2 separate regions of the Homo sapiens genome follow, and region 2 is linked to region 1. The links come from fine-mapping of genetic effects on gene expression. Tissue or cell type: whole blood. Region 1 holds a variant in brackets; the other region holds the start of a gene. All regions are shown on one strand. Distances are between the middles of the regions.

Region 1 (2,500 bases):
GACTGAGGGAGAGAAGGCAGGAGGCCGGCTTAGGTGGGGGGGTGTCATGTTGCCCACCCCCAACGCACTGGTGCTGGGGAACACCAGCTTGGGGGCAGCACCAGCGGTCACCCTTGTCTGCAAACAAACCTGTCACCATTAAAGGCACCACCGGGATATGTGCCCTCATGCACTGAGGGGGCATCTCGCCACGGCCACCACCGTCATGGCTACCAGCACCACAGCCCTAGGTGGGGGGAGAGGCCGTGCCCTTCTCTCCCCCCACCGTTACCTTCGGGCTTCTCACCACCGGGTCAGCGGGCAGAGGGCGGGTAGGGGGATTGGGTCGGTCAGCCAGCTCAGCCTGAACAGAGAGAGGGGCAGTGGCTGTGAGAGCATAACCAGGGGCTGTGGACATGCACAGAGATTCCCCAGAGGGGTTCAAGTCAACATGCAAAGTCAGCCAGGGGGCAGGAGAGAATGAGGGCATGCGCAGAGGGCTTGGAGGCATGCCAGCTGATGTCTCAGGGGAGGAAGGTGTAGGTCAACCGCAGTCCCTGGCCGACTGCAGTCCCGCCATTGACCACCAGATGGTGGTAGAAACCAAGGCAGGAGGCTCACCCTTTGCTGCTTCTGGGGCTCAGAGTGTCTGAAGGCTGAGGGGCACCCCGATCACCTAATGAAGAGCACCACTGGCAGGGAGCAGGGATGAGAACTGCAGTTGGGTACCAAGCCTCCCACCTGCCTTGGCTCAGGGCGGGCCCTGGCCCAGATTTACCTGGAGTCTCTTGGACACAGGGTCAGGCGGCAGCGGCCTGGAAGGGGGGGCCGGGAAGCTGAGAGCACTAGCCTGCTGAGAGGGCAGGAGGGGCAGATAGGCACAGAGGGGGAAGAGGAAGCAGAGAGACAGAGTGGGCAGGGAAGGGTCAGTGCCCAGGGGGGGCCAGCAGGGGCCCAGGGCAGTGGGTGCTGTGCATGCAGTTATGCAGGTGCATGCAGGTGGGGAGCGAGTGGGGAGGAGGTGTGCACACACTCCCATCATCCAAGCAGAGGGCTCAGGGTGGGGATGCTCACCAGCCCTTCTAACATGGTGACCTGGGCCTACGGAAGGCCATTCTGAGCACCACTGCCCTTGTGCCCTCCTGGGGTCACTGCTGGGGGCATGGATAGA[T/C]CCACCTCTCAAAGCCACCTCTTGGCCAGCGGACGGAGCCCAGCAGCTCCTGCTCCAGCTGGCTGCCCTCCCCACTCTTCTGGACTCAGCTTCCCTGCCTGTAGCCAGGGGAGGGGAGGGCAGGGCTGGCCCTGACTCCTTCGACTGACTCTTGGGCAGTGCTAGCCTTTCTCTGAGTCTGGAGCCTTTAATGCGCACCCCCCAGGGCCCAAGCTGGATGCCCGGCCAAGGTGGAGTCCCCTTCCTCTGGCATCCAGGACTCACCTTAGTGCCTCGTGCCAGCAGGGCCCTCTGCGGAGGTCCTGGCCGTTCAGAGGGACCAGATTGGGCTGCCCTATGCATGAGGAAAGGCAAGAAGGGAGAGGGCCCAGCCTCAGACCCTGTTTTCTACCATATGCCATCCCTGAGTGGGGTTAACCCTTTGCAGGCACTTATGTGTGGTTTAGGTAAAATTGTGGTAGGGCCGGGGTGGGGGGCAGTATTTATTAGCTTGAGGGAAGACCCTACTTATCCAGCACAGGGGCTCCTGGGGAGAAATGGCCCTAGCAATCCAGCCACCCCACAGGGGCACAGCTGTGAGGTAAAAAGCTGTGGGCACATATAGGGAAGGGAGGTGTGGGGTATGGCAGTCAGCAACTTTAAGGTCCAAGGGGCCTGGGGCTCAGAACCAGGTGGCAGGGGCTGCAGAGGTGAGGCAGCCTTCAGCACTGTCCCCAGTTGAAGGAAGTGGTAGCAGGGAGGTGATGCTCATACCTGTACTGGCAGGTGGGTCCCTTGAGCTGGCAGAGTCGCTGGTGCAGGCGGGCACGGTACCAGTAGCTGGCACCAAGCATCACCAGGACCAATAAGACCAGGAGGCTGAGGAGCAGCCCTGTGGTCAGGGAGCTGGTTGCTGTGGGCGGAAGTCAGGTTTAAGGGAGGACGGGGCTAAGAACTCTAGATCCATGAAGGCGCAGGGGGCAGGGAGTGAAGTCAAGTGATCAGGGAGAGTGAAGGGTTCAAGGGGCACAGACTCAGGGAACCAGCAGCAAAGGGGGGTCAGAAAGAGAGGGCCGAGGGGGCAAGATAAAGCATGAGACGCTTTGCCCTCCCAGCTGCCCCTGTCCCCCACCCCCATGCTACCTTTGAGCTGAGTGGTGCAGTCAGGGGGTGCCCAGCCCTCCTCACAGTAGCAGTGCCTGTTGCTGTCACAGACCTAGGAGGTACAAGGCGAGCAATGAGGAGCTCTGCACTCTGGAACTATTTCCTTGTCTCTAGCTTTTCAAGATCTCAGATTTCTACAACTGGGGGTTGTGCTGGGTATGTGTGTAGAGACAGCCCGGAGGGAGGGTCTTTATCCATACCAGAGCA
Region 2 (2,500 bases), 27 kb after region 1:
GGACGGCGCTGTGTTCCACAGGCCGCTTGAGTGTTCCTGGCTTTTGCCCAGCACTAACCCACCAAGCTGTACAAGAACATAATCTTCTGTTCTTCGTAGATGTTCATGGGGTTCACCAGGAGCTGAAAGAGACCTAAGGGCACAAGGTCAAGCCAAAGGCCAAAAGATGGGTCCTAGCCCTGGTCCAGCCTCTGCCCACCCCGAACTTTCTGCTTCCACACTCACCTATGGCCAGGAGCCCCCCAGCGCCTGCCCCCAGCAGGAGAGCAGTGACAGGAAACTCGCCCGGCTGGCGCCACAGGAACCAGCTACAGGAGACTGGCAGCCCCCAGGTCAGGAGCCTCTGCACCGCTAAGAGGGGGACAGGGTAGCTCAACAGCCCACTCTTCTGCCTGGGATGGGGCTCATTAGGATTCAGGGCTTGCAGGTGGATAGAGGCTGGGGAAACCTGGCATGTGAAACAGTAGGAACTTAGGGGACCCTGGAGGAGGATGAGGGAGCCTGAGGAAGTGGTATGGGTGTAAGGGACAGCAAAGGCAAGGGCTGGGCTGGGAGGCGGGAGGCACTAGACCAGAGAGGTGGTGGAGGCGCGGACACCGAGTTGGGGGATAGTGTGCAGGAGTTCCAGGAGGAGAGATGGGATGAGAGTGGAGGTCAAGGGATACTGGGTCTCTGCTGAGTGACTCACTGGTATGAGGCTGTTTTCTTCTTTGCCCTCTTGTGCCATTCTGATGATGTTTAATGTCCATGAGTCTGTTTTGGGGAAGCACCACTCATCCCAGGTCTCCTGAAGGACCTCCTTGGACACAAGGTTCTGGTGAGAGAAGAGAGGTGCTGCCTGTCTCTTCCGCTTCATGGGAAGCCTAGGCCTGAGCTCTGGGCCTTTTAATCCTTCTGCTCCGAGAAGTGGGGAAGGAGATTAGAGACCTACCTATCCCCTCTCCAGTCCTCGGAACTGGGTCAAGGATTCCAAGACATATGCAGTGAAAGCCCTTTGGAACCTTAGAATACGGTGAGAAATTCCAGGAGCACAGAAGTCAGCGGGCATCTCCTGGAGACAGGCAGACATTTGGTCTCAGCAGCCATGCCCAAAGTCATGAAGGATGTTGTGCACCCCTTGGGGGGAGAGGAGCCTAGCATGGCGAGAGCTGTGGTTCGCAGCGTGGGAGGTTTTACCCTGGGCTTGTCTTTAGCCACGGCCTACGGGCTTCTGGAGCTACTGGTGGAAGGCCACAGCCCCTGGGGTTGCCTGGTGGGCACCCTCACTTTGGCTGCCTTCCTTAGCCTGGGCATGGGATTCTCTCGCCAGGTCCGAGCCACTGTCCTCCTGCTGCTGCCTCAGGCCTTCTCCAGTGAGCTTGGCACCCAGGGCTAGGGGGCAGGTCCTGGGGCTGGTGCTGGGGCAGAAGAGATGCTGGAGGAGAGGCAGGGGTTAAGGGAAATATTCTGAAGGCTTATGTAAGGGACTTGCTGCCATGTTTGGGGCTGGGGTCTTGGTTCTAACAAAGCTGTCGCCCCCAGGGCAGGGCCGGACACTACTGTTGGTGGCTGCTTTTGGGTTGGTGCTTCAAGGGCCTTGTGCCAACACTCTACGCAACTTCACCCGGGCCAGCGAGGCTGTAGCCTGTGGGGCAGAGCTGGCCCTGAACCAGACCGCCGAAGTGCTACAGAGGGCCAAGCAACCTCTTGTCAGTAAGTCCCCCACCTCTACCACTGTCTCCCACGGGCCCCCCTCGCCCCCCTCATCCTGCATGTTCTACAGTCCTTTGGCCTCCTTCTCTGCTGGTGCTAATCGCGGAGCATCTGGGCCTGGAAGGGACTCTGGGCACAGCTAAACCCTCTCTCCTTGCTCTCTGGCCTCCTCCACTCCCAGATTAACGATCTCCCAGGCCCCAGAATCCAGGCTTCCCGCCTCTGGAAATGGTGGCCTCCTCTCTACTCCCTGCTTAAGGGGCAATGGTGAGAACCAGCCCCTAGAGGAGAAGACTCCAAAGTGCCTCTGTCCCTCACCCATCAGGTGCCCTGAACAAGATTAAAGCTATTGCCCGGAAGACCAAAGAGGTGGCTGACCGGGTCCGCAAGTTCTTTCGGTCAATCATGGATGGTGTGAAACACATAGGTAAGCACATTAGCATGTCTATCCCGGGGACTCAAAATGCACCCAGTCCTGGCCGGGTGCGGTGGCTCATGCCTGTAATCCCAGCACTTTGCGAGGCCGAGGTGGGAGAATCACTTGAGCCCAGGAGTTTGAGACCAGCCTTGGCAACATGGCGAGACCCTGTCTCTATAAAAAATAAAAAAATAGAAAATAAATAAAACTAGCCAGATGTAATGACACATGTCTGTAGTCCCAGCTACTGGGGAGGCTATGGTGGAAGGATCTCTTGAACCCAGGGGTTTGAGGCTGCAGTGAGCTATGATCGTGCCACTGTACTCCAATCCAGCCTGGGTGACAGTGTGAGACTCCATCTCTAAAGAAAAAAAAAAGCGGGGGGGCCAG

Evidence for each region. PIP is the estimated chance that this variant, and not a neighbour inherited with it, causes the effect.
Region 2: it holds the start of DCST2, and the variant in region 1 is fine-mapped to the expression of DCST2 in whole blood (TOPMed, PIP 0.96).

The regions. Positions count from the first base shown.
Region 1 is chr1:155,059,747-155,062,246 of GRCh38, reverse strand. ADAM15 (ADAM metallopeptidase domain 15) reads right to left here. Exons shown (of 23, transcript NM_207197.3): 17 at 2,273-2,345; 18 at 1,904-2,042; 19 at 1,415-1,484; 20 at 758-832; 21 at 272-343; 22 at 1-2. All of the region lies in intron 1 of DCST1-AS1 (DCST1 antisense RNA 1), which reads left to right. ADAM15-EFNA4 (ADAM15-EFNA4 readthrough) reads right to left here. Exons shown (of 26, transcript NR_176418.1): 17 at 2,273-2,345; 18 at 1,904-2,042; 19 at 1,415-1,484; 20 at 1-2. Among named protein-coding and RNA genes, the nearest start is that of EFNA4, 2.7 kb to the left of the region's middle. The variant T/C (reference allele first, on the strand shown) is at 1,151.
Region 2 is chr1:155,032,286-155,034,785 of GRCh38, reverse strand. DCST2 (DC-STAMP domain containing 2) reads left to right here and starts at 1,005. Exons shown (of 15, transcript NM_144622.3): 1 at 1,005-1,352; 2 at 1,522-1,692; 3 at 2,018-2,119. The coding sequence starts at 1,085. It overlaps DCST1 (DC-STAMP domain containing 1), which reads right to left and starts at 962. Exons shown (of 17, transcript NM_152494.4): 1 at 932-962; 2 at 689-814; 3 at 226-351; 4 at 59-133. The coding sequence starts at 749.